Regions from separate parts of the Homo sapiens genome. Here region 1 is linked to region 2. Evidence: fine-mapped QTL for protein levels in blood plasma. A gene starts in region 2. The other region holds a variant in brackets. All regions are shown on one strand. Distances are between the middles of the regions.

Region 1 (15,950 bases), 50 kb after region 2:
GCAAACAGGTTCTGGAGTGGACCTCCAGCAAACTCCAACAGATCTGCAGCTGAGGATCCTGACTGTTAGAAGGAAAACTAACAAACAGAAAGGACATCCACACCAAAACCCCATCTGTACGTCACCATCATCAAAGACCAAATGTAGATAAAACCACAAAGATGGGGAGAAACCGGAGCAGAAAAGCTGAAAATTCTAAAAATCAGAGTGCCTCTTCTCCTCCAAAGGAACACAGCTCCTCACCAGCAATGGACAAAAATTGGATGGAGAATGACTTTGACAAGCTGAGAGAAGAAGGCTTCAGATGATCGGTAATAACAAACTTCTCTGAGCTAAAGGAGAGTGTTCGAATCCATTGCAAAGAGGCTAAAAACCTTGAAAAAAGATTAGATGAATGGCTAACTAGAATAAACAGCATAGAGAAGACCTTAAATGACCTGATGGAGCTTAAAACCATGGCACAAGAACTACATGACACATGCACAAGCTTCAGTAGCCAATTCGATCAAGTGGAAGAAAGGTTATCAGTGATTGAAGATCAAATGAATGAAATGAAGCGAGAAGAGAAGTTTAGAGAAAAAAGAGTAAAAAGAAACAAACAAAGCCTCCAAGAAATATGGGACTATGTGAAAAGACCAAATCTACGCCTGATTGGTGTACCTGAAAGTGACAGGGAGAATGGAACCAAGTTGGAAAACACTCTTCAGGATATTATCCAGGAGAACTTCCCTAACCTAAAAAGACAGGCCAACATTCAAATTCAGGAAATACAGAGAACACCACAAAGATACATCTCAAGAAGAGCAACTCCAAGACACATAATTTTCAGAATCACCAAAGTTGAAATGAAGGAAAAAATATTAAGGGCCACCAGAGAGAAAGGTCGGGTTACCCACAAAGGGAAGCCCATCAGACTAACAGCAGATCTCTTGGCAGAAACTCTACAAGCCAGAAGAGAGTGGGGGCCAATATTCACGTTCTTAATGAAAAGAATTTTCAACCCAGAATTTCATATCCAGCTAAACTAAGCTTCATAAGTGAAGGAGAAATAAAATACTTTACAGACAAGCAAATGCCAAGAGATTTTGTCACCACCAGGCCTGCCTTGCAAGAGCTCCTGAAGGAAGCACTAAACGTGGAAAGGAACAACCGGTACCAGCCACTGCAAAAACATGCCAAATTGTAAAGATCATCAAGACTAGGAAGAAACTGCATCAACTAACAAGCAAAATAACCAGCTAACATCATAATGACAGGATCAAATTCACACATAACAATATTAACCTTAAATGTAAATGGGCTAAATGCTCCAATTAAAAGACACAGACTGGCAAATTGGATAAAGAGTCAAGACCCATCAGTGTGCTATATTCAGGAGACCCATCTCATGTGCAGAGACACACATAGGCTCAAAATAAAGGGATGGAGGAAGATCTACCAAGCAAATGGAAAACAAAGAAAAGCAGGGGTTGCAATCCTAGTCTCTGATAAAACAGAATTTAAGCCAACAAAGATCAAAAGAGACAAAGAAGGCCATTACATATTGGTAAAGGGATCAATTCAACAAGAAGAGCTAACTATCCTAAATATATATGCACCCAATACAGGAGCACCCAGATTCATAAAGCAAGTCCTTAGAGACCTACAAAGAGATTTAGACTCCCACACAGTAATAATGGGAGACTTTAACACCCTACTGTCAACATTAGACAGATCAATGAGACAGAAAGTTAGCAAGGATATCCAGGAATTGAACTCAGCTCTGCACCAAGTGGACCTAATAGACATCTGCAGAACTCTCCACCCCAAATCAACAGAATATACATTGTTTTCAGCACCACAGCACACCTATTCCAAAATTGATCACATAGTTGGAAGTAAAGCTCTCCTCAGCAAATGTGAAAGAACAGAAATTATAATAAACTATCTCTCAGACCACAGTGCAATCAAACTAGAACTCAGGATTAAGAATCTCACTCAAAGCCGCTCAACTACATGGAAACTGAACAACCTGCTCCTGAATGACTACTGGGTACATAACGAAATGAAGGCAGAAATAAAGATGTTCTTTGAAACCAATGAGAACAAAGACACGACATACCAGAATCTCTGGGATGCATTCAAAGCAGTGTGTAGAGGGAAATTTATAGCACTAAATGCCCACAAGAGAAAGCAGGAAAGATCCAAAATTGACACCCTAACATCACAATTAAAAGAACTAGAAAAGCAAGAGCAAACACAGTCAAAAGCTAGCAGAAGGCAAGAAATAACTAAAATTAGAGCAGAACTGAAGGAAATAGAGACACAAAAAACCATTCAAAAAATCAATGAATCCAGGAGCTGGTTTTTTGAAAGGATCAACAAAATTGATAGACCGCTAGCAAGACTAATAAAGAAAAAAAGAGAGAAGAATCAAATAGACACAATAAAAAATGATAAAGGGGATATCACCACTGATCCCACAGAAATACAAACTACCATCAGAGAATACTACAAACACCTCTACGCAAATAAACTAGAAAATCTAGAAGAAATGGATAAATTCCTCGACACATACACTCTCCCAAGACTAAACCAGGAAGAAGTTGAATCTCTGAATAGACCAATAACAGGAGCTGAAATTGTGGCAATAATCAATAGTTTACCAACCAAAAAAAGTCCAGGACCAGATGGATTCACAGCCGAATTCTACCAGAGGTAAAAGAGGAACTGGTACCATTCCTTCTGACACTATTCCAATCAATAGAAGAAGAGGGAATCCTCCCTAACTCATTTTATGAGGCCAGCATCATCCTGATACCAAAGCCTGGCAGAGACACATCAAAAATGAGAATTTTAGACCAATATCCCTGATGAACATCGATGTGAAAATCCTCAGTAAAATACTGGCAAACCGAAACCAGCAGCACATCAGAAAGCTTATCCACCATGATCAAGTCGGCTTCATCCCTAGGATGCAAGGCTGGTTCAACACACGCAAATCAATAAACATAATCCATCATATAAACAGAACCAACGACAAAAACCACATGATTATCTCAATAGATGCAGAAAAGGCCTTTGACAAAATTCAACAGCGCTTCATGCTAAAAACTCTCAATAAATTAGGTATTGATGGGACGTATCTCAAAATAATAAGAGCTATCTATGACAAACCCACCACCAATATCATACTGAATGGGCAAAAACTGGAAGCATTCCCTTTGAAAACTGGCACAGGACAGAGATGCCCTCTCTCACCACTCGTATTCAACATAGTATTGGAAGTTCTGGCCAGGGCAATCAGGGCGGAGAAAGAAATAAAGGGTATTCAATTAGGAAAAGAGGAAGTCAAATTGTCCCTGTTTGCAGATGACATGACTGTATATTTAGAAAACCCCATCACCTCAGCCCAAAATCTACTTAAGCTGATAAGCAACTTCAGCAAAGTCTCAGGATACAAACTCAATGTGCAAAAATCACAAGCATTCTTATACACCAATAACAGACAAACAGAGAGCCAAATCATGAGTGAACTCCCATTCACAATTGCTTCAAAGAGAATAAAATACCTAGGAATCCAACTTACAAGGGATGTGAAGGACCTCTTCAAGGAGAACTATAAACCACTGCTCAATGAAATAAAAGCCACAAACAAATGGAAGAACATTCCATGCTCATGGATAGGAAGAATCAACATTGTGAAAATGACCATACTGCCGAAGGTAATTTATAGATTCAATGCCATTCCCATCAAGCTACCAATGACTTTCTTCACAGAATTGGAAAAAACTACTTTAAAGTTCATATGAAATCAAAAAAGAGCCCGCATTGCCAAGACAATCCTAAGCCAAAAGAACAAACCTGGAGGCATCATGCTACCAGACTTCAAACTATGCTACAAGGCTACAGTAACCAAAACAGCATGGTACTGGTACCAAAATGGAGATATAGACCAATGGAACAGAACAGAGCCCTTGGTAATGATACCACACATCTACAACCATCTGATCTTTGACAAACCTGCCAAAAACAAGAAATGGGGAAAGGATTCCGTATTTAATAAATGGTGCTGGGAAAATTGGCTAGCCATATGTAGAAGCTGAAATTGGATCCCTTCCTTACACCTTATACAAAAATTAATTCAAGATGGATTAAAGACTTAAACGTTAGACCTAAAACCATAAAAACCCTAGAATAAAACTTAGGCAATACCATTCAGGACATAGGCATGGTCAAGGACTTCGTGTCTAAAACACCAAAAGCAATGGCAACAAAAGCCAAAATTGACAAATTGGATCTAATTAAACTAAAGAGCTTCTGCACAGCAAGAGAAACTACCATCAGATTGAACAGGCAACCTACAGAATGGGAGAAAATTTTTACAATCTACCCATCTGACAAAGGGCTAATATCCAGAATCTACAAAGAACTTAAATTTACAAGAAAAATACCAAACAACCCCATCGAAAAGTGGGCAAAATATATAAATAGACACTTCTCAAAAGAAGAGATAGATCCAGCCAACAGATACATGAAAAAATGCTCATCATCACTGGCCATTAGAGGAATGCAAATCAAAACCACAATGAGATACCATCTCACACCAGTTAGAATGGCGATCATTTAAAAAGTCAGGAAACAACAGGTGCTGGAGAGGATGTGGAGAAATAGGAACACTTTTACACTGTTGGTGGGACTGTAAACTAGTTCAACCATTGTGGAAGACAGTGTGGCGATTCTTCAAGGATCTAGAACTAGGAATACTATTTGATCCAGCCATCCCATTACTGGGTATATACCCAAAGGATTATAAATCATGCTGCTGTAAAGACACATGCACATGTATGTTTATTGTGGCACTATTCACAATAGCCAAGACTTGGAACCAACCCAAAAGGGCATCAATGATAGACTGGATTAAGAAAATGTGGCACACATATACCATGGAACACTATGCAGCCATAAAAATGATGAGTTCATGTCCTTTGTAGGGATATGGATGAAGCTGGAAACCATCATTCTGAGCAAACTATCACAAGGACAGAAAACCAAACACTTCATATTCTCACTCATAGGTGGGAACTGTACAATGAAAACACTTGGACACAGGATGGGGAACATCACACACCAGGGCCTATCGTGGGGTGAGGGGTGGGGGAGGGATAGCATTAGGAGATAAACCTAATGTAAATGAAGAGTTAACGGGTGCAGCACACCAACATGGCACAGGTATACATACGTAACAAACCTGCACATTGTGCACATGTACCCTAGAACTTAAAGTATAATAAAAAAAATAATAAAAATAAAAAATAAAAAGAAAAAATCAATTATGGTTTTATACATTGGAAATTTAGTGAAGTTAAGTAAACAATTCCATTTATAATAGTACCAAAAAGAATAAAGTACTTAGGAGTAAATTTAATAAAAGTAATGCAAAACCTGTACACTGAAAACTACAAAACATCAATGAAATAAGTTAAAAAGGACTTAAGCATACAAAAAAAAACATGTTCATGGAATAGAAAACAATATTGTTAAGATGGCAGTACTCCTTATGATGGTTAGTTTTAGGAGTCAACTTGACTGGATTAAGGAATACCTAAAAAGCTGGTAAAACATAACTTCTGAGTGTATCTGTGAGGATGTTTCTAGAGGAGATTAGCATGTGATTCTTACTGAGCGAGGTGGAAAATATCCACCCTCCATGTAGGTGGGCACTATTCAGTTGGCAGGGGCCCAGAATGAACAAAAACAGAACAGAAGTGTATTTGTCCATCTATATGCTAGAGCTGGGATACACTCTTCCTCTCCTGTCCTTGAATATCAGAACTCCAGGCTCCCTGGCCTTTGGACTTCAGGACTCATACCAGTGCCCCCCTAGGTTATCAGGGCTTCAGCCTCAGACTGAGAGTTACACCACCGCTTTCTCTGATTCTGGGTCCCTTGGACTTGGACTAAGCCAGGCGTCTCCAGCTTACAGACAGCCTGTGGTGGGACTTCTCAGCCATCATAATCATGTGAGCTAATTCCTCTAATAAATTCCCTCTCATATCTATCTATCTATCTAATCTAATCTAATCTTTCTACCTATGTATCCCATTGGTTCTGGCTCTCTGAAGAACTCTGGCTAACATACTCCTCAAATTGTTTAGCAGATTAAGCACCATCTCTATCAAAATATCACTGCCATTTTTGTAGAAATTGACAAGCTGCTCCCAAAATTTATATTGAAATTCAAGCAACTAGAATACTCAAGAGTCCTAAGAAAGAGGAACTAAGAGGCTGAGCGCTGTGGCTCATGCCTGTAATCCCAGCACTTTGGGAGGCCGATGCAGGTGGATCATAAGGTCAAGAGATCGAGACCATCCTGGATAACATGGTGAAACCCCGTGTCTACTAAAAATACAAACAATTAGCCAGGCGTGGTGTTGGCAGGTGCCTGTAGTCCCAGCTACCGGGGAGGCTGAGGCAGGAGAATGGTGTAAACCCGGGAGGCAGAGCTTGCAGTGAGCTGAGATTGTGCCACTGCACTCCAGCCTGAGTGACAGCACGAGACTCCCTCTCACAAAAAAAAAAAAGGAAAGAAAAAAAAAAAGAAAGAGGAACTAAGTTGGAAGACTCACAATTAACAATTTCAATACTTATTACAAAGCTACAGTAATCAAAACTGTGTGGTACTGGCATAAGAATAGATGTATAGACCAATAAAATAACATTGAGAATTCAGAGACAAACTCACACTCATGGTCAATTGATTTTCATCAAGGGTGCCAAGATAATTCAATGGGGAAAGAATAGTCCCTCACTGCATGGTGCTGGGACAACCAGTTAGCCACATACAAAAAAATAAAGTTAGGCCCCTGGCTCATACCATATAAAAAATTATTTCAAAATGAATTAAAGACCTAAATGTAAAAGATAAGACTATTAAACTCTTAGAAGAAAACATATGAGTAAATCTTCATGACCTTAGATCAGGCAATGTTTTTTAGATATGACACTAAATGCACAAGCAACAAAAGAAAAAAACAGTTAAATTGGACTCCTCCAAAATGAAAACTTTTGTACTTCATAGGACACTATTAATAAAGTAAAAAGATAGTCTTCAGAATGGGAGAATATAACTGAATCATGTTTGTTATGAGTTTTGTATCCAGGATATTTAAAGAACTCTTACAATGCAACAATAGAAGACAACCCAATTTTTTAAATGGACAAATGACTTGAATAGACATTCCTTCAAGGAAGATACACAAATGACCAATAAGCACATGAAAAAATGCTCAACATCATTAGTCATTAGGAAAATGCAAATCGAAACCACAATGACAAACCACTTCGTACCCACAAGAAGGGCTACAATAAAAAAGATGAACATTTCTAAGTATTGGTGAGAATATGGAGAAATTGCAACCCTCATACATTGTTGTTGAGAAGGTAAAATGGAACAGCCACCACAGAAAACAGTTTGGCAGTTTCTCAAAAAGGCAGACATTGAGTTACCATATTACCCTGCAATTCTACCCTAGGTATCTACCCAAGAAAATGTAAAACATGTGTTCATATAAAAAAAATTATACATGCATGTTCATAGCATTTTTCATAATAGCCCAAGGTAGAAGGAATGCAAATATTCAATAACTGATGAATGGATAAATAAAATGTCATATATCTGTATAATAGAGTATTGTATAGCCATAAAAATGAGTAAAAGATTAAAGATACCACCACATGTATGAACCTTGAAAACACTATGCTAAGTCAAAGGTATTTATCACAAAATACCGCATATGGTATGTAAAACATTCAGAAAAGGCTAATCTGAGAAGATACAAAGTAGTGGCTGCCAGGGACTGGGAAGAGGTAGGGGTGACTGCAAAGAAGTATGGGGGTAATGAGGATGTTCTGGAATTAAACAGTGGTGGTCATTGCATGACATTGTAAATATACTAAAACCACTGAACTGTACACTTTAAAGGGATGAATATTATGGCATAGTATAAATTATATCTCAATTTTATAATGCTATGATATAATAGATGAATATTACTTGGCATACAAGTGATACACAGCAACTTTTTATTTTCTTGCTTTCTTATTCCACTGTGTTCCTTCAAAGCTTGGTCTGGAATACTTGCCTCTGCAAGTTCCTGCCAGAGAGATAAGTTTATTGGGCTGGGAATTCAAGTTTATCATTGTGTCCAATCTCAATTCCCTGAAGGCCTGATGCTTGGCCTCAGGCTCACTTTCATGATTTAGAGGCAAATCTCAGATTATCTGAGCAAGAAATCACTAAAATATTCTGTGAATTTTTCCCGCCCCTCAACTAGCAGGTTTGAGGATACTATGCCCAAGGCAGGTGTGATGTGCCTGGGCCAGACGCAGAACCACACTCCTGCGTGGCCCCTGAGCTCCTGCATTCCACTGTTCTGGGTCCCTTTCTTCTTCTGCTTCCTGCTTCCCCTTCCAGCATCACTCTTGGCTCTGTCAAGAAGTGGTGTAGGTGATGTGGCCTGAAGCCAAATGATGCTGGGAGGGTCAGTGAGGTCCATGTCTTTGAAAATGTATGTGCAGCGGTAAAAAATAAAAAACAAAAAACTGCTACTGCAAACAAACTGCAGCCACTTTCTAGCTCACTGGATG[A/T]GGAAGGAAGCATGTTATTCCATTTGGAAAAACACTTTCAGGGCCCCTGCTGTTCAGCAGTTTCAGATCTCAAGGCCTCATGAGGAAGGGGAGGGTGAGAAATAAAGAGGTCATTTCTGGGGGTAAGAAAGTGGAAGGACAACTTCCTTGCTTGAGGTTACTTTTGGGTGAGTGGCATTTTGGTTTCTATTAAAGGGCGTAAGTGCTGGAGTGGGTCCCAAGGGAAGGAAGAGATGGCAGAGGCTGAGTGCAGTGGCTCATGCCTGTAATCCTAGCACTTTGGGAGGCTGAGTCGGGTGGATCACCTGAGGTCAGGAGTTCGAGACCAGCCTGGCCAACATGGTGAAACTGTGTCTCTACTATAAGTACAAAAATTAGCCAGGTGTGGTGGCGGGCACCTGAAATCCCAGCTACTTTGGAGGCTGAGGCAGGAGAATCGCTTAAACCCCAAGGGATGGAGGTTGTAGTGAGCCGAGATCACATCACTTCACTGCAGCCTGGGCAAAAGAGCAAGACTCTGTCTCAAAAAAAAAAAAAAAAAGAAAGAGATGGCAGAAGGGGCTCTGTTCCTAGGGCAGGTTGGGGTTTAAGGTGACCATTGACTCAAGAATGGAACCTGGTATTTAACATTCAGCTGTTTTCTCTCCCACATGGCAATTGCTGAAACCTTCATGATACAAGTGACATCACCCAACCTTGAGTTAGCTTTGCAGTAGGGAAGGCCCAGGAGGAAGGTGGTGGAAATGTTGGGTTCAAGTCTGGCTTGCAGAAGTGTTCAGAGGTGAGAGGGAAAGCTCAGAGTAGCCTTTCTGACTCAGAAGTGAAAAAAGCCACAAAGAATGTAATACCTTGGGAATCCTAGGGCATCCTGGAGGTGGCCGACTATTATCATTAGTGTGATGGCAGATGGGAAAGGAAAGGCATTCCCAGAAGGCTGCAGGACTTGGGAGCCCTAGAGCACTGATGGGTACTGGTTCTCCCAGAACTGCAGAGGCTACCCAGGGAGAATTCAGTGTGCCGAGGGGAATGAGGGCATGCAGTAGAGGAGAAAGGGCACAGACAGAAGCTTGGGAGCCTGGTTTGTGTGTTTAACAAGAGCATTGAACATCACTGTCACATGGTACAACTTCAGTAGGTGCTGGCTACATTTGAACAGAGGAGCTAAGGCTGTAATGGTGAGATGACACGCCAAGTGGGGCTAGGGTCACAGCAAGAGACTGCCAAAGTGGGAGGGAGGCCACCTGCTGAGGAGGATAAGAGGCATTCTTCTATCAGGGAAGCACTAACTATGGGACATCAGGGGTGCTAGGTGTCAGGTAGGTAAAGGCCACTCAATGTCAGGGCTCAGTTGCACATCATAACGTGGATGGCACTCAGTGCCAGGCATGGGGAGAAGGCTTAGTCTCAAGCATGGACTCATGCTCCGGCGATGGGGAGGACTCCGTGCACGCGGGTGCTAGAGAGAGGAGCTAAGTCCCAAGGATGCCTAAATCTCGGGGAGGGAGCTTGCAAAGTCAAACTTATGGGGGACCTTAGTGACAGGGATAGTGGGAGATGACACTCAGGGCCAGGGATGGCCTGGAACGGTCTTCCATGGGGGGCTCAGGACTCTCGTGATCTGGCCTCATGCTCCCACCTGGTCTTCATCCGCCCATCTGCTGCAATGGCCTCTCCTCCCTAGCTGAGCTGCTTGTCAGGAGCAGGCCCCTGCTTAAGGCAGGGCCAGGCCGCATGCAAGGACATACAGCAAGAATGACATACAGCAAGAAGCCTTGCAGGGCAGGGCAGCCCCCAGGCTGCAGCTCCTGACTGTTGATGCCACCTCTCCCCACCCCAGGGCCGAGCTGGTGGCTGGCCAGGTTGGAGCAGAGGACAGTAGCAGGGAGCCCACAGTGTGACCCCACTGGGCTCCAGCCCAGCATGCTTTCCCTTCTCTAGCTGTCCAACTTCTCCAGGAGCTGGTGAAAGCAGGTGTGGTGGCATGAGGCCGTGGGCTCTGTTCTCCTAATTTTGGACTTCCAGGTACTGGAGGTGGTAGAGCAGGTGGAGCAGGTTGAGCAGACTTCCAGCTGATGGAGTCTGTCATCAGCTCCAATGGGGTTGCAGCAACAGACCTTCAGTGGGAACAGAAAAGACTTTGAGACATCTCATCCAGCTTTACTCTTTACAAATAGAGAAATGGAGGCCCTCAAATAATGTGCCCAAGGTCACTCAGGAAGTTGGCATCCTGGCTCCAGTTCCTTGTCTTCTTACACAGTGCATGCCTCCCAAACATGATGATTTCAAATCATGCAATAGGGTCAACAGGCTCTGGCTCTGCCATGCATTAACCAGGTGACTTTGGAAAGGCCGTTAATTTCCCCAAACCTCAAGGTCCTCATCTGTAATATGGACATAATCCAATCAGTGTTACCAGTCTTATTAGACTCAATAGGAGGTCACCATCTCCAGCTCTTGTTCTCCACATGCATAACAAAGATCTTAGCTTTCTGAAATAGTCCCCAGGCACAATCAGACCCAGTGGGGCTCTCATGTGCTGCCAACACTCAAACAGACACATCCATTTATGCCAGGCTCTGCCTCTGCTCTGAGAAGGCTAGTGGCATTCTGTTGGGGATCACTGGTGCCACTGCTCCTGGTATGTTGAATGCCATGATGTACAGTTGTTTCTGAGGAAGAGGGCATGCATCTTCCCTCTTTGTGTGAGGCTTGTCCAAAGAAGCAGTGTCCAGGCAGTGTGGCTCTACCTCAATGCCTCACAGAATTCTTAGTAAAATGATTCTTTTAGTTTTTATTTGGAGTCCCCCAGGGGCTCATAAGTCATAGATCCTTAGGAGCTCAGTCAGAGATTTCTTGGAATGACAGACACCAGACTCTGCTAAGCACGCCAGAGAAGGTGGTGCTCACCAGACCCCACTCTGCTCCTTGACACCTTCCAGCTGCCCTTGCATTAATTGGGTCCATGTGACTAGTTCCAATCCGTGGCTAGAAGTGATATCACTTCCCGTTAAAGCCCAGGACACTTAGTTCTTTCTTGCCTTGACTCAGCAACTGGTGACATCCCAGATGCTGGGTCCCTGATGGAATATGAAAAACAGAGTCCTTGCCCAGAAAGGTGCTTTGGATGAGTGAGAAAGGAACATTTATGTTAAAAACTGCTGAAGTCTGGGGATAGCTTGTTACTGCAGCACAACCTAGCCTATCCTGACCAATGCATCAAAACAGTTTGCCTTCCCTAACCAAGAAGTCCTTGCTTGATTAATCTCACTGAGCAAGGTTTCTTCTTCCCTTCAAATGTGGTCTTTTTAGAAGATGGCTCAGTGCCACAACTATCAGCCTTCTTGTATACATTACCCACGGGTTTGTCATAGGTGACCACACCTGTCAGAGCCTCATTCAGACAAGGGCTAAGCTCTCCATCACTACAATGCCATCACTTTCCTCCCTGCAGCCACTGTCTTCCAAGTCTCTTCTCTCAATGACAGATTCCACCCTGGACTCTGATCTTCTGGAGCTCTGAAAGCTGAAGAGTACAGAGCCGTGTATGTGGAAGTTTTCCCTAAATTCTCATGAGCTTCAAACTCTCACGAGCCAGTGGCTTTGTTTCCAGTTTTCTTCCATGCAGACCTGATACCTCCCATTCTTTCCCCCCATGCTGCCACCTCTTCCTGCAGTAGCTCCAACATGCGTGACAGCGCTAGTAGCTAACTCCGCGGGGTGGTGCTGCTGCTATGCCATGGCTATTTCTGCTTTAGACAGGACTCTGCTTGCTTCTGGGGAAATCTCTTCGGAGCTTGCCCTGCAGGACAGCAATTATTCTATGCCTGAGAAGATAAGCCAGATAAATCTGCAACCACATCCAACCACACCAAAAGAGCTGCAGGCAGTTTCTACTTGCTTTTAGGAGTGCTTTCTCTCCAATTATTCCAGGTCTTCCTGAGCGCCTCCAGTGTGGCAGCAAGGTATTTATGCCCTCCCTGCCTTTCAAGGAAGAGATGATGGAGGTGTTTAGCATTGGCACCACTGCTGCCCTTCTCTGATGGCTTCTCTCTCCTGAGGGCCACTGTGATTCCCATCAGCCTCTTAAAAGAATAAACACTATCAAGTATTTATTACTATAGCCTCTGAATTCACAAGCCAGGCATGGTCCTCAGCTTTCCACACTTCTAACACTGAGAATGCCTCTCTAATTATTCGTTTAGAGACATTGCCTATTTTGAGCACAGTGGCATCTTTCAGGGAAGAGCCCTAAATGTTTTCCAACCTGATAGATGTCTCAGATGAGGTTAAATATCTCTTAGACTTAGGTTGGATTTTGCATGACCCATGATATAAAGGCAGTCGAGCATAGTGGTTAAGAAAGCGAGCTTTGGTGTTAGGTTGTGGGAGTTTGAAACTCAGCTTTTTTGGTTTTAGTCAGGTAACCTTGAGAAACATGTTTAACCTCACTGTGTCTCATTTTAGTCATTTATAAACCAGAGATGATAACTGCACAGATCTTTCAGGGCTCTACGGAGAATTAGCTGTCATAACGTAGGCTAAATACTAAGTACTTGACACATAGGAAACATTCCACATGGACTAGGTCCCTTCTTCTTGCCCCTGCAGGCTCCCCAGTTCCATTCCTTTTTGCACAGGCTTGCCTATGTTAATTTCCTAGGAACTGGCTTCCTCTTGCCACTCTCTTTCTATGCACTTTGAATGGCTTCCAGCCATTCATAAGCCATCAGTTTAAGAGATACAAAAAGGCTCTCATCTGAGCCCTCAAGACCTTCCACAATATGCCCCCAACCAACCCCTCCAGTTGTATTTTCAGCTATTCCTCCCAAGACCCTCCCTCTGGCCTAGCTGACCTCTCTATTCTCACTAAACCTCTTCACTCAGGCCAAGACTGTATCCTGACTTCTTTCTCCATCTCTTCAAGCCTTACTCACCCTCTAAGTCTCAGTGGAAGACCTCCCCTCCTACAGGAAGTCCTCCCTGACTAGACAGAAATTCTGCGCCATCCACATGGTAATTAGTCACCAGCAGAAGTATCTCTCTGCAGTTTTGCTTTTGCTTGCTTTTGCATGTGATCTTCCCCTCAGTATGAAAGCTCTTTGAAGAAAGGCTCTGTGTTTTCATAATTAAGGCTTGGCATTCAGTAGGTACTCAATAAAGGCTGGCTGGCTAGATGGGTGAAGAAGCATGGGTCTTAGAAGACTCCTATGGGTTGGACAGGGATGACAGTAAATCTCTGAATGCCCCTGGGACTTCTCAGGGACACAGAGGAGGGAGAAGCTATTCTTTACTACCCCTGGGAGTTTGTGTGGAGCTGTGGGAAATGAACCGGCACACTTTCGTTAGCTGAGTGTGTGCTAAAGCCCCCTCCGCCTTTTCCTCAAGGCTCGTCAAAGTGGTCACTTGGTAGCTAGTTCTGCAGTGAAGGATTAAGGTTCAGGGTCAGACCCTGAACTCCAGTGGCAGCTGCAGCTTTTACTAATGATGTGAACTTTACAAGTTCATTAACCTATCAGTGTCTCAGTGTCACTGCCTACCTTTAAAATGGCGATAACCAGGCTAGGCACAATGGCTGACACCTGTAGCCCTAGCTACTCTGGAGGCTGAGGTGGGAGGATTGCTTGAGCCTGGAAGTTTGAGGATGCAGTGACCTATGGTCGCACCACTGCACTCCAGAGTGGGTGACAGAGTAACACTGTTTCAAAAACACAATAAATAAATAAATAAATAAATAAATAAAATAAATAGGGATAACAACTGTTCCTACCTCAACTCGTTGTGAAGATTACATGAGCTAATGCACATGAGCAGTTAGAACACTGCTGCAGTGAACACCAATACATAACCTCTGTATGGATCATTTTGGTCTATAGGTTTGGACAGGATGACATGGAAAGAAAAAGCAGACTCAAACTCCATCGCTATCACTTCTAGATCCGTGATTAGGAACATGTTCTCCTTCTCTGAAGCTTTGTTTACTTGTCTTTACAACAAAGAAAATCATACCCATGATAAAGGATGGGCATGGAAATGAAATACTGTTTATTAAGCATGGATATTACATTAAGTATAATTACATGTTGCCTATTAAGCATGGAGAACAGTGCCCGTCATATATGGGGATCATGGGTATGTTCTTATTCTTTTCCATTTAAGTCTCCCTTTTCTGCCTGGCGGAGTGGCTGGGCTGAGATTGTGGTAACCGTAGGAAAGAGAGGGGAAAATGCAACTTCGTGTAGAGGTTAGTGTGGGTCTGCTGTCACCTGCTGGATTAAGTAGGTAAAGACATTGCCAGGTGCTCTCTGCTGCCACCTTATGGTGAAAGAGGTTTCTAGCAGAAGAGCATATTTGTCTAGTCCTGCTTGTGTTCTGTTCCTCCTCACACCCCTCCAACAATGCGTGCTCTCCCGACCTACCTTCTCTCAAACTCTACCTGGGGAGCACTTACCAAGTGCCAGATATTGTATAGACTGCGATTAAAAGATTAATGAGACAGAGGCTCTGGCACTGACAAGCAGTGCTCACTCTTTAAGGGACCTAAGAAATATGTGGAGAACTTTATTATTTTTTAAAATCACATTTATTCACATACAATTTATTTTCACACAACAAAACGCATGCTCTTTAAATGTACACATTGATAAGTTTTGACAACTGTATATGCACGTGGAACCACCGCCCCAGTCAAAATATTGAACGTTTCTGTTATCCCACAAAGTTTTCTCATGGCGCTTGGTAGTCAATCTTCACCACTTCCTACCTACCCCAGGCAATCCTTGATCTGACTTCTCTTGCTATAGTTTGTTTTGCCCTTTCAAGGACTTTATATAAACGGAAGTGTACAGTATACACTCTTTTGTGTCTAGCTTCTCTAGCACAACAAATTGTTTTTGAAATTTATCCATGCTTTTGTAGGTATCCGCAGTTTGTTTTCTTCTATTGTTAAGTGGTATTTCAGTGAATAAATACATAATTCATTTATCCATCCTCTTGATAGATTTTTTGACTGTTTCCAGATTTATGCTGTGGTGCAAAAAACTGCAGGCACGTTTGTGTATAAGTCTTTGGGTGAACTTTGTGAGTCCTTTGTGTGGTTTTTATTTATCTTGGGCGAATTTCCAGAAGTAAAATTGATGGGTCGCAGGTAGATGCATGTTTAACTGTGTAAGAAACTGACAAACATTTTTCCAAAGTAATTATGCCATTTACGTACCTACTACAAGAATTCCGATTGTCCACATGCTCACCAGAGCTTGCTAGTTTTCTTTGTTTAACTTTTAGCTATTTTAATGTATGAAGTTACATCACATCGTGGTTTGAAC
Region 2 (12,998 bases):
AAATGATCTTTGACAAGGATGTCAAGACCACTCAGTAAGGAAATGTCAGTCTCTTAAACAGTTGATGTTGGGAAAACTAGATATCCAAATGAAAAGATTAAAGCTGGACCCTTGCTGGGAGCACTGGTTCACGCCTGTAATCCCAGCACTTTGGGAGGCCGAGGCGGGTGGATCACCTGAGGTCGGGAGTTCAAAACCAGCATGACCAACATGGAGAAATCCCGTCTCTACTAAAAATACAGAATTAGCCCGGGTGGTGGCGCGTGCCTGTAATCCCAGCTACTCGGGAGGCTGAGGCAGGAGAATCGCTCGAACCCGGGAGACGGAGGTTGCAGTGAGCCAAGATCACGCCATTGCACTCCAGCCTGGGCAACAAGAGTGAAACTCCGTCTCAAAAAAAAAAAAAGCTGGACCCTTATATTATACCATATACAAAATTCAACTCGAAATGGATCAAAGACCTAAATGCAAGATGTAAAATTATAAACCCCCAGAAGAAAGTAGGGGGAAATCTTTATGATATTGGATTTGACAATTTTTTTTTTTTGAAATGGAATTTCACTCTTTTTGCCCAGGCTGGAGTGCAATGACACGATCTCAGCTCACTGCAACCTCTGTTTCCCAGGTTCAAATGACTCTCCTCCCTCAGCCTCCCAAGTAGCTGGGATTACAGGTATTCACCACCATGTCTGGCTAATTTTGTATTTTTAGTAGAAATGGGGCTTCACCATGTTGGCCAGGCTGGTCTTGAACTCCTGACCTCAAGTGATCTGCCCGCCTCAGACTCCCATAGTGCTGGGATTATAAGCGTAAGCCACTGCGCTTGGCTGTTTTTTTTTTTTTTTTTTTTTTTTTTTGTTGATATAACACCAAAAGCACAGGGAACCAAAGCAAAAATAGATAAATGGAATTACATCAAACTTAAACACTTTGGTGTATTGAAGGGCACAATCAGCAGAATGAAAAGTCAGTCTATGAAATGAGAGAAAATACTTACAAATCATGTAACTGATAAGGGGTTAACATTAGAATATATAAAGAATTTCAGGTTGGGCACAGTGGCTTACGCCTGTAATCTCAACACTTTGGGAGGCTGAGGCAGGCAGATCACTTGAGGCTAGGAGTTAGAGACCTGCCTGGCCAAAGTAGTGAAACCAAGTCTCTACTAAAAATACAAAAGATTAGCTGGGTGTGATGGTGTGTGCCTGTAATCCCAGCTACACAGAAGGCTGAGGTACGAGAATCGCTTGAACCCAGCAGGTGGAGGTTGCAGTGAACTGAGATCACACCACTGCACTCCATCCTGGGCAACAAAGTGAAACTCTGTCTCAAAAGAAAAAAAAGAACTTCTACAGCATCGACAATACAAAACAAATAACCCAATTAAAAATAGGCAAAGGATTTCAATATACATTTTCCAAAGATGATATACAAACGACCAACATGCATCTGAAAAGATGCTCAATATCACTAATACTAGAAAGTTGCAAATCAAGACCATAGGGAGGTATCACCTCACCTCCATTAGGATGGCTAGTATCAAAAAGACAGAAAATAACAAGCGAAGACAAGGATGCGATAAAACTGGAATCTTTGTTTACTGTTGGTGGGAATGTAAAATGGTGCAGCTACTATGGAAACAATATGGTAGATCTTAAAAAAATAAAAATATGATTACCAAATGATGCAGCAATCCCACTTGTGGGTATATATCCAAAGGAACTGAAAGCAGAATCTGGAAGAGACATTTGCATATCCACATTCAGAACAGCATCCTGCACAATAACCACGAGATGAAAACAACCCAGCTGTCCATCACTGAATGAACAGATAAACAAAATGTGGTATATACATACAATGGAATATTATTCAACCTTAAAAAAGAAGGGAATTTTGACACATGCCTTAACATAAATGAACCTTGAGAACATTATGCTAAATAAAATAACCATTCACCAAAAGACACATATTGTATAATCCCACTTACAGAAGGTACCTAAAGTAGTCAAATTCATAGAAGAGGAAAGTAGAATGGTGGTTGCCGGGGCTGGGCAGCGGAGGAAATGAGCAGGTATTGTTTAATGAGTATGCAGTTTCAGTTTTACAAGATGGATTTACAAGATGGAAATCTATTGCACAACAATGTTAAGTATATGAACATTAACAATACTGAAGTATACACTTAAAAATGGTAAATATGATACATTTCATGGTATGCATTTTTTAACCAAAATTTTTCAAAATTGAAAACTTTAAAAAAGAGATAATGATACCTTATGGAAATGAATTTTATAGCCTCCAAATGAAAGATTGACAGTACTTTTAAAAAATGAACAATTTATCTGCTCAATTTAAACACTCATTTACAAGGTGGAATAGGAACAAGATGCTTAAAGTAAACATTCTCATTGGACAAGGAAGACTGGGGGACACACAGCAATGACTGACTTGTAGCAATTCTGATATACTGCTGGGCAGACATCAAAAGGGACTCTTCCTGGAACAGGAACAGGGGCTCTGAGCTCACTTGCAGGAAGGGCTTCCTTGTCCGGGGCCCCAGATCCACCTTCTGTGAGGCCCTTGCTTGTCCATTTCTTCTCCTTGGCCATACTGTACATGGAACTCAGTGGACATGCCCTCCTAATTCAGTGGCTGTCATGGCTTGTTTCTAGCTCATGGAAGATTCGGAAGTTGTTTTATAGATAGAATAGTCAAAGGCTTTTTCAGTCTTGGCTTCTGATTTTCCTGGCAACATAATTTTCTCAAAAAATTACTAGCACTTTTCCAATCTGCCAGTAAAGACATGTAAAATCTCTTTCTACTCGCAGTGCTTGACATATTTCTGTGCTTCCTCCACACCCGACCCATAACTGTCTTTTAGGATCAGGCTGCCGGGCTAGAATGGGAATGCCACATTGTTAACCCACTCTCTTCCTGAAGCCACTCTGTCAAACTGAAAGGTTTTATGGATATTTTGTTGTTCAAATCATTTTTAAAAATTCCATTCCACTGCCTGGGATGGTGAACAGTTGTATTTCAAACTTTACAATGTCCTAAATGTCTCGACTCTATGCTCCCTTTTGTTCCTGATTGTAAATTGGTCAAGGCTAGGTCAGAACAAAGGACACTATGAAAACCCAAGTCAGAGGTTACCAGGACTGGCTGTTGGCTCCAATGACCTGAATATGAGAGAACTGAGGAGCACATGGCATCAAACTCATCTGTGCACCAGTATCCATCTTCTAGGGAACTCGTAAAATACAGCAATGGGAAGAGGAGCCTTCCCTGCATTGTAACATTCTAAATCAGAATCTTTGAGGATGTTGTGATGTTTTGGAAAGACCTCAGGTGACTCCAATATACCTTAGGTCACTTAGGAAGCATTTAATGCACAAATTAAATCCACAGCCTATGAACCCATAGATAAAAGGTGACTTGCAAAAGTTTACCTGACAATCTAGTCACCAAACCAGATACAGATCTCAAAGGCCATGTCTTAGTGTCCAACTACCTATTGTAAATCTTCACCTGGCTCCTGGCTGTGATTGTCCCAGTAGTGCTCCCCTCCCAAAGATGCTCACATCCTTGTAGCCAGGCGTGGTGTCTCACACCTGTACTCTGGGAGTCTGAGGCGGGTGGATCACCTGAGGTCAGGAGTTCGAGACCAGCCTGGCCAACATGGTAAAACCCCATCTCTACTAAAAATACAAAAATTAGCCAGGTGTGGTGGTGCACATCTGTAATCACAGTTACTTGGGAGGCTGAGGCAGGAGAATCACTTGAACCCAGGAGACAGAGGTTGCAGTGAGCTGAGATTGTGCTACTGCACTCCAGCCTGGGCAATAGAGCGAGACTCCATTTCCAAAAAAAAAAAAAAAAAAAAAAAAAGCCTACATCCTAATCGAATCCCTATGCTCTATAAGTATGCTACCTGACATAGCAAAAGAAATTTTATAAATGTGATTAACTTAAGAATCTTGAGATGAAGATGTTATCCTGGATTATCCAAATGGGCTCAGCATAATCACAATATAATCACCTTTTAAGATGAAGGCAGGAAAGTCAGAGTCAGAGACAAGATGTGACTATGAAAGAAAAGGAGTGAGAGAGAGAGAGAGAGAGGTTTTTGAAGACACAGGAAGAGACCATGAGTTAAGGAATTGAGGTAGCCTCTAGCAGTTGGAAAAAAGCAAGAAAATGGATTCTCCCATAGAACCTCTGGAAGGAATGAATATAGCCCTATGGACCCATGATAACTCTGACCTCCAGAACTATAAGACAATGTATTTTTGTTGTTTTAAGCCATTAAGCTTATGGGAATTTGTTACAGTAACAATAAGAAACTAATACAGATTTTGGTACCTGGAAATATGGTGCTTCTGTAACTAACACCTACAGATGTGGATGTGGCTTTGGATTTGAATAATGAGCATAGGCTGGAAGAATTTTGAGCATGACATAAAAAGCCTAGATTTCCTGGAACTGATTGTTGGCAGCAACAGGAAATGAATGCATTGCACTTGGCACTTTCTTCTAAAACAGAGTCTCACCACTGCCAATGCCCTGTGTTCAGTTTCATCATGAAAGGAATTCCATGCTTGGGTGGAAAACAGTATGGAGTCAAGACTTCCTGAAAATGAAGAGATGTGGCCTGCAAGGGGAATGTAAGCAGATTAATTTGGGGTTTGAGCATGTGGATCCCCCCTTTCTCTGCCTCCTCTCCTCCCAGACTGTCTGCCTCAAATCTGCCTGGCGTCAAAAGGTTGCTGCTCGGAAGCCGTATGATGAGGTCTCATTTGTTTGCATTCTATTCTCTTTTTGCCTCTTGGCATCTACTGCAATTTGAGATTTCACTCCTGACTGGTGATCAAGGCCAGGGAATGTAGGGGTAGAGGAGAGGCAGGGGACGCTGCTTGACCTGGAGTGAGGGTCAGTGAGTTTTCTAAATAGCTGTCAATAAATTGTCTGCTGACTGATATATCAGGGTACTTGGAGCTTTGAAGGGATTCGGTAGTCTGATTCAGGGACCCTGGACTGGCTCAGGAATGTAGAAGCAGAATCCCTTCTCTCCCTCTGCAACTCCAGTTAGTAGAAATGGAAGTTTTCCAACAGATGTGCTCCCAGATCCGAAAGGGAACCTTTCCTCTGGGTTCCTATTTGTAACACATTATCATACCTGTATGATCGATGTAGGCTCAGAATATCTGACCTGTCTTGACTGACAAAGCGAGTCAGCGCTGGATGCGGGGTGAGAACCTGAGTGTGCTTCTTGCCAGTCAAAGTTGTCCCCAGCACCTCATGCTGCCAAAAGCACTGCCTGCTCTAGGTTGACACAGTGGTCATTTCCCCACCAGACTGGGAAGTTAAGAACCATGCAGTTTATTCAACAGAGCAAGACATCTGCTTTCCTGAGTGTTGGCGTGGTGTGGGTGCCCAGGCAGGTCGAATGCTTTAGGTGGGACAAATATCATGCAAAGGAATACACACTTCAGGTGGCTATTTAGGAATAGAAGGCTCATCTGTTTAAATGGATGATTCCAGGTGCCTGAGATTGGGATGGGGGTATAGTAATGGAGGGAAACACATTCTGGTTTCAGGGAAGCTGCCCCCTTAAAATGTGGGTTGAAGATGAGGTTTTCATATCTGAAGTCACAGGTCTTTCTCCTCCATTTACAACATGCAGCATTTCACCCTGCATGGCTCATTCTTCATTGCTGCCTCTTTGGCTCCATATTTAGGCCTTCATCATCTCTTGCTTGGACCATGGCAATAGCTTCTCACTAGTCCGTATTTCTCTGTGTATGTATAAAATCTATAAGTTACATTTCCTGAAACTTATCTCTGAATCTCTAAACATGGCACATCCCTCCTCATTGGACTGAAGATTCTCAACGTTTCCTTTTAACCTACAGAGTTGAGTAGTAACTTTTCACCCTAACATTCAAATCCCTTGACTCAACCTTCCTTTCTAATTGTCATCCCTTGACATTGGTGTGGGCCCGAATTCGCATCTGGTTCATTGGTTTTCTCCCTGCTTGATGTACACATCATCACCATTTCTACCTCCAGGTATTTGCTCCCACTCTTCCTTCTCCTTTCTTAATGATCCTATAATTTTCCTAGAAAAGCCTTCTTCATTCATAAATAATAAGTTCAGGTCTCATCATCTCTATGAAACTTCAATCTAATCATCTTATCTATGGTGATTAACTCTTTCCTTATTTCCTAATACTGGCAGTGTCTGTATTACTCCAGGTTGGGGTATTAATTGGAGAGGTACAGATTGGGGGGTGGGTAGCCCAGTTAGGGGGCAGTTGCAATATGTTAAGGGAAGAATTGCATGCAGGGGTCAGGGTCTGTGAGAAAAGGAATGGGGGTTGGGCTCTTGCTAAATGGGTGACCAGGGTCATTGGACTCTGGGCTGCTTATGTTGAAGACTGGAAGGGTGGTGCTTTAATGCCTAACTGGCCTGCCATAAAGATTCTTCTACGGAGACTCAGAGGAGACCACCCAGTGGAGAAGACCGGGGCCAATCCACTTTCCCATTCCTTCAAAATGTAAGCCCCACCCTCTGAAATCATGTTCCTTTGTCACCACCAAGCTCATACTCTCAGCTTTGTAATTTCCTTCAAGAAAACACTGGAAGTCAGGTTTTGTACAAAAATATATTTATTTGGTGTAATAGTTACAAAATATTCATTTCCACAATAATATTTTAGCAATGCATTGGAATGTTAAAAAAAATTCTTTGTATTAATGATTCTTGCAAAGACCCTCAAAACATCCCAGGGGTAGAACTGTGGTTCAAGAGGAAAAGCAATTTCCCCAAGTCTCTGTATCTAAAAAACACTAGTACCATGAAAGATAAACTTAAAACATCAATAACTTAAATAAGAATTAACATTACTTAAGGCATAATGTTTCACATCAACAAACAAAATTCATTATAATAAAATAAAACAGGGTGTCTGGGGAAAGCTAGGGGAAAATAAGTTAGCTGCAGATTCTTGGGTTGTGGAGTGAGTGTTCAAGTCTTCGGAGTTTGGGTTTGCTTGTCCAGGTGGTCCATGGAATCCTGAACCCACTTCTGCTTGGGGTCAGCACAGATCTCCTTGGCCACAATGGTCTTGAAGCTGTGGGGAGGGAGGACAGAGTTAGATGAAGTTCCTTTGCAGTTTTGGTCTAGAAGTGCAGCCCATTCTGCACCAAAGGGCTGCCATGGGAGCTAGAGGAGGAACGCAGGTGGAAGGAGGGAACCCAGGGCAAACTGCTCCTATAGGTGTCCAGGTGGAGCCATCCTGACTTCAAGCTAAAGAAATTGGGGTGTTCTGAATAGGCACCCAGGTGGAGAGTGATGTTGGGGTTCACTTTTTCCCTTGGTGCCTCAGTTTTCCCATTGGGAACCTTTGTACATTAAGTTAAATAGTGCACTCTCTGACTCTAGGTTTATGAGGCTTGTCCCTTGCTCCACAAGGAAGAACTTCAGGCCAGGGAAGGTTGGTGTGCTGAACTCACATCACAGCTTCTTTGGGACACTTGCTGCTGGTGATTCTTCTATAGCTCGCGAGCCTCTGCACTGAGATCTTCCTATTGGTGAAGTTATAACAGCAGGTGACTGGGGCATTGATTGCATCTGGAAAATAAACCACAAAGAAAAAGCATTTTAGGATGAACTGGATTATTCTGATCTTAAGAGCAGAAAAGAGTCATGAGGAAAAAGCAAAAGGCAGGCAGGAGAAGACAAAGAGCTCATTAAATCCCAGTGCTTCTGCCTATACCTCAGAGCTAGAATGTGATCTTTGACCCAATGACTCAGTTTCCTATGCTGTAAAATGGGTATATAACATTGATAATGGACAGAGAGAAGGAGGAGCTGTTAAAGCTAGATAATGCCTACAAGTGTCATTAAGACGGACCAATAATCCAGATGATCAGCACCAGGGAAGATCAGCTGGGGAGCCCCACTATGAGCCTCCTTTTAGACTCTGAATAGGCTATGCCTGGTCATGAGTTTCCCTGATACTCATTACCTCTGCAGAGTCACCGTCTCTGGAAGCTAAGGTGAATGAAGCACAGACCAGATTCTGGGTCTCCAGCGTGTCTGGAAACAGCCTACACACCCACCCTCTCTTTGATTACCCTGATCCCCAAACTCTGCTGGAAGCAGCTGGGGGAGTAACTGCGCTGAGTGTGTTCCCAGAGCTGGAATCCTGGAAGGAGCTGGATTTGGGGTTCACAGCTGGAATTCTAGTTCAGGCTCTGCCGAGCAGCAGCTGTGTGGTTGGGCTCACCCCTTGTCCTTTTCTGAGTCACCTTATCTTGGAAAAGTAGCGTTAAAGCAAGACTGTGGGTACCACGTCTGCTTGGATGGTCCATGATAACTCAGAGAGAAGACAATGTGGTTCAAGGAGAAGAAGAGGGGGCCTTACCTGGCTGAGCGAGCCCTTGGGGAATGAAGGTGGCTGCTATGAGCAGCAGGCACAGAAGGGCGGCAGAGACTTTCATGCTGGAGGCGAGAGTGCGAGCTTCAGTTTGAGAATTGGATGTTTCTGGGTTAGTCTCAGCCTCTCGGTTCCTCTGGCTGCTGTCTCTGCCTCTTATTGAAAGCGGGCAGAGGGAGAGAGGGCGGAGTCAAGCAGGAGGAGGGATCTTCCATGAGTGATAAGTGGGCTGTTAAATCTGCTGAGCAAATGCAGCATCCTGTGGATTTCCAGGAAGTAGGAAAGGGAAGCAGGGGGTCAGGACGAGACACTTTTTCCATTCACTGCTGAGACCAAATGAGCAAATGGGGAGGATGGGGTGCCATTAAGCCCAGACTGACCACAGATGTGAACTAAGAGGGTTATTTTTAAGGATTCTGCTTTCTCTGAAGCGAAAACTGCAGAAAAGGAAGGAAGCGAGGAAACTAGATGAAAGCATGTCAGGCTCGCTGCCAGCTTACCTTCAGGCCACATTCCAAGGGGCCTCCCAGCCAGGAAGGAGCTCTCAAGCTTTGGCCGGCTCCCTGACAATGCATTAAATCCATTTGCTCATTCAAATGCAGAATAGTAGCATCATAGAAGCCTAGCAGAACTGTAGGATTGTGTAAACATTGAACTGAATTCTAAGAGTTCTAGGGTTTCAGACTTGGACAAAGGCATAGACAGCATGTAGTGCTGCAGAAGAAATGCCAGTGTCATACTCACAGAGTGCTTACTCTGCCAGGAATATTCTCAGACCTTTACAAATATTAACTCTGTAAATTCCCCAACTTTATCTAGTAGGGATTGCTAATTTTCATGTTATAGATCAGGCAACTGAGGCACAGAAGGGTTAAATAGCCTGCTCAAGGTCCCCTCGAGCACAGAACCCAGGCAGCCCTGTCCCCAGTGGGCTGCCACCTCTCTGACATACTGCTGGAAGGAAACGTGTACAAGTCCTCCAACTAGTTGCCTGCTTGGGTCCTCTCTCTGTCCTCAGCATCTTCCAAATGGGCAGACAGCTAAAGGAGAATCTAGAAACATTCCTCATGGCTAAGTCATTATGAGTTAGGAGGCTGTTGCTAGCATAGCAGGCAGCAGTGGACAAGAAGTTCATCCCTGGTTATGGCAGCTATTCTCCTGGCTTCCTTCTTAATTTCCAAGGGACATGAGTAAGCAGTGGAGGAGTATTTCGGGAATTGGAAAGCCTGACTTCATTCCTCAGTTGTGCCTTAGATTTCCTCAGAAACTACAGAAGCACACTGATAAAAACCCAAAGACCTTAGAATTCATTTCAGTGAACTGTTGTCTCTTACAAATATGATAGGAGTACTTGAGGCATGTTAATGGCTGGGCTGAGTTTAAAATTCTGATCTCTCGATTCTCCTAGCCCACTGCCTCCTCCTTCTGAGCCTTGCGGTGCCCTTGCCCAATGGGCATACAAAGACTAGTGACTTCTTTCATAAAGGGTCACTGAGGCAATGTCTATAAATGCATGGGGTTTCTTGAAAGAAAACACTTTTCACTACACTTGTAAAAAGAAACGGGTTGTATTCAACAAATGACTGTTTTATTTCTAGTAAGTGGTCAGTAATGGCATTGTTGAGTGCATTCAGGGAGTCAGGTATGGTGCTGACATACTTTCCAGCGCTGCCTGCCCAGTCCTCCAACCAACCCAGCTTTCGTTAGGTTAAAACTGAAGTTATTTGTCCAGTAACTCAGACAGAATAGTAGATGTGCTGAGACTCCCACCCAGGATGTTTCCATTCCAGAATCTCTTCTTCCTGGGACTAGACTTGATGTCTCATGATGGATATTGGTTTCCTGGAGAATCCCAGAGCAGAGACTCTATGGAGTGGCCATTTCAGACTCTGGTGGAATTACAAAAAGCAGGATGAAGAGAGAACAAATCAACTCGAGCCCTGCTTTGCTTGTGCCTCTTGAGGAGCCTTATTCTTGTTCTGCCTGAATCTCACTAGTTACTCCTTTTCTCCCCAACCAGTGTTGAAACTTCTCTGTGTTTGTCTCAGTCCTCTGCTCATGCCTCAATCCATTCTTATCCAATGAATAAAATGTTTCCAGGACTAGAGACTGTGCAACTTTGTGTAGGAATTTCTTCCTAGGCCATCTCACCTCATCTTCCAAGAAGTTTTCCTCATATCAGGGGAAACCTCTCTCTAATCAGTTAGTGCATCCTTTACCATGAACTTGGTGGACCGCATTCAATTTCCCTTTATAATCCAGTCATGCTTCGGGTTTTCTCTAGGTTAACAAGCTGAAAGATGCTGAGATCTTTAAATAAGTCTCTCCTGGCTTAGTCATATCAGCATCACTCATAGAATCCCAGAATCAATGGGCTTATAGACATCCTGTGGCATGACCACTTGTTTTTATCTGATAAAGCCACAATCCAGAGAAGGAGACCAATTAGCCCATGGTCACAGAGAAAAACTTCCCAGCTTTGCTGGCTGAGTGTTCACATAGGCTTCTGAGTGTTGGAAGCATGTCTCTACTTCAGGAAGGAGTTGTCATCTCTGGAAAGTGACTTGGCCTTTGCATATATCAGACAGTAAACACAGGGAAGGTGAAGGGTATGAATCAGAAAAGAAAGTCTTCTGGAAAGTGATAGCTGTCTGCCTCCCACTTCTGCTCTGTCAAGAAAAGATGCCCTCCCCCGCTGGGAGGTCAGTGCTGGCGTGAGAGAAGTGAGTGGAAATTCCCACTCTGAGGAGGCAGCTTTGGAAGTTCCCAGATCCCGTAGAAGAGAATGCATTTGGCTGGAGCCTGCATTCCAGATACTGGGCCCGGAGCCAGGGAGCTCTCACATGGGGCTGTGCTGGGAACATCTCGGCACAAGCCTGGGTTAGGCTCTGGCACAAACCTGGGTTGGACTCTCGCTTGGGGACACACAAGGGAAAGGCCCCCAGAGGGGCTATGGGGAAAATGAGGGTCAATGCTCTGATGCTGTCCAGAATCCTCAGTTACCCCGGGGCCTCCTCTCTATCAACTCATAGATAAAGAATGGAAAAGCTCCTCTTGGTGAATAATGCTTTCTTCATTCCTCCCGGGGTCTGACCCCACCACTAAGATCCTCTGCATGAACCTTGGTCATCGCTGCAGACTCCCACTCAGTGTCAGGGGTGAAAAAAAGAGGAAGTAAAAGTGAGCTCTCTGGAAAGATCTGAAGCCACTGCCTGGGCTCCCACCAACTTCTGCGGTTCACTTGTCCCTCCCCACCTAGTGCAGGCTCCCTTGCTGGTGCTCCCTTCACTCAGCCTTCAAGAGAGATGCACCGTAGCTCTGCACTCACCATGTCCTTTCTAGACAACCCCCACTCAAGGCCTCTCCTCCAGGCTAGCTCCAGGTAGAATAGAGCCCATTTTCCCAGGGCCGCTACTCTGCAATCCCTTTCCTGTCAAGGATGAAAATCTTTCCTTAATTTTTCACAGAATGTCAGAAAATGAACGAGACCTTAGAGACCATCTACCTGTTTCTCTGATGGGGAGACTGAGGCCATGAACAGGTTAGTGACAGGCTCAAGGTGAGATAGAAGACGAATGGCTACATTTGTGCTGGTTTGCTTATTTCTGGGCTCTCAATGTAGTGCCCTTTGTCATCTACTGCACTATCTCTTTATTATAACATTCATACAATTAGCACATACCCTGTGCAGAGCACCAGGTAGAGGACTGCACAGGGAGGGAGAAGTGAATTAGACATGATGCTTCCTTTTCAGAAGAGATGCTAAAGTAAGAATCCATGGAAAGTAGGACTGAATTTAGGAATAAATCTGATCAGTACTTACCCCAAGCTTCCAGCATCTAAGATTTCTTGCTTTCTGGATTGGATCTGCCCCAGGTCTAATTGCATGCAGTAGCCAAGAATACTCCTGAGCATGGGAATAGGGGTGGCGATGGGCATAGCATATGAGAACAGAAAGAGTAGTGGCCTGAGTTGGTGGGTGGGGGTGATGGTGGTGAGGAGTAGTGATGCCTGAGGAAGCAAGAGGCTTGTTCTTTAGATTGTCTTCTGAGCCAGCCCTCACAGATTAGCACCTGAGCCCTAGAGGGAGGAGACTGATGTGGGTTGGGGGTAAGAGTTAAATAAATTCTTAGGCTAAAGGCAGCGTGAGCCACTCTACAGCACTTTCGTGTTACACATTGGGGGAGAAAATGCTTTCCTCATTTGGGGCTTGCATTGTACAAGGTGGCCTGAGCAGTGTGATGAGGGGGTCAAGGTGCCGAACTGGGAGAGGGGGATGGGCAGGTCTTAGGGAAACAGAGATCAGATGGAGTGGAGACAGAAACACTTTTTTGACAATAGCCTTTTGTTGACTCCTTTAGCACCTGTGCTGGGGTCATCTAAGGGAACAGAATAATTGCATTAACCAGAAAGATACAGAGCGGTGAGAGTCCCAGCTGAGGGGCCCAGGGAAGGCTCGTGATGGTACATTTAAGATGGGCTCAAGGGTTGGGCAGATTTTTGAACCTTGGCGATCGGTGGGTGAAGGAGGGGTCACATTTTGGGCAAACTTACAAA

Direction of the effects. Positions count from the first base shown, and alleles are read on the strand shown. Strength reflects both the effect of a copy and how common the allele is.
In carriers of allele A in region 1, the plasma level of the protein whose gene starts at base 8,570 in region 2 tends to be higher than with T alone (weak association).

What was found. PIP is the chance, under the fine-mapping model, that this variant and not a neighbour inherited with it causes the effect. The UK Biobank Pharma Proteomics Project read protein levels with antibody pairs (Olink). The fine-mapping took linkage between variants from a reference panel, not from the people measured, so its PIPs are less certain.
Region 1: its variant is fine-mapped to the plasma level of the CCL2 protein (UK Biobank, PIP 0.97).

What each region holds. Positions count from the first base shown.
Region 1 is chr17:34,199,083-34,215,032 of GRCh38, reverse strand. No RefSeq gene overlaps it. Among named protein-coding and RNA genes, the nearest start is that of LINC01989, 23 kb to the right of the region's middle. RefSeq lists enhancers at 9,924-10,423, 10,424-10,925. The variant A/T (reference allele first, on the strand shown) is at 8,629.
Region 2 is chr17:34,250,857-34,263,854 of GRCh38, reverse strand. It overlaps CCL2 (C-C motif chemokine ligand 2), which reads right to left and starts at 8,570. Exons shown (of 3, transcript NM_002982.4): 1 at 8,430-8,570; 2 at 7,516-7,633; 3 at 6,652-7,133. The coding sequence starts at 8,505. The coding sequence ends at 7,028. RefSeq lists enhancers at 7,899-8,873, 8,874-9,848, 10,792-11,991.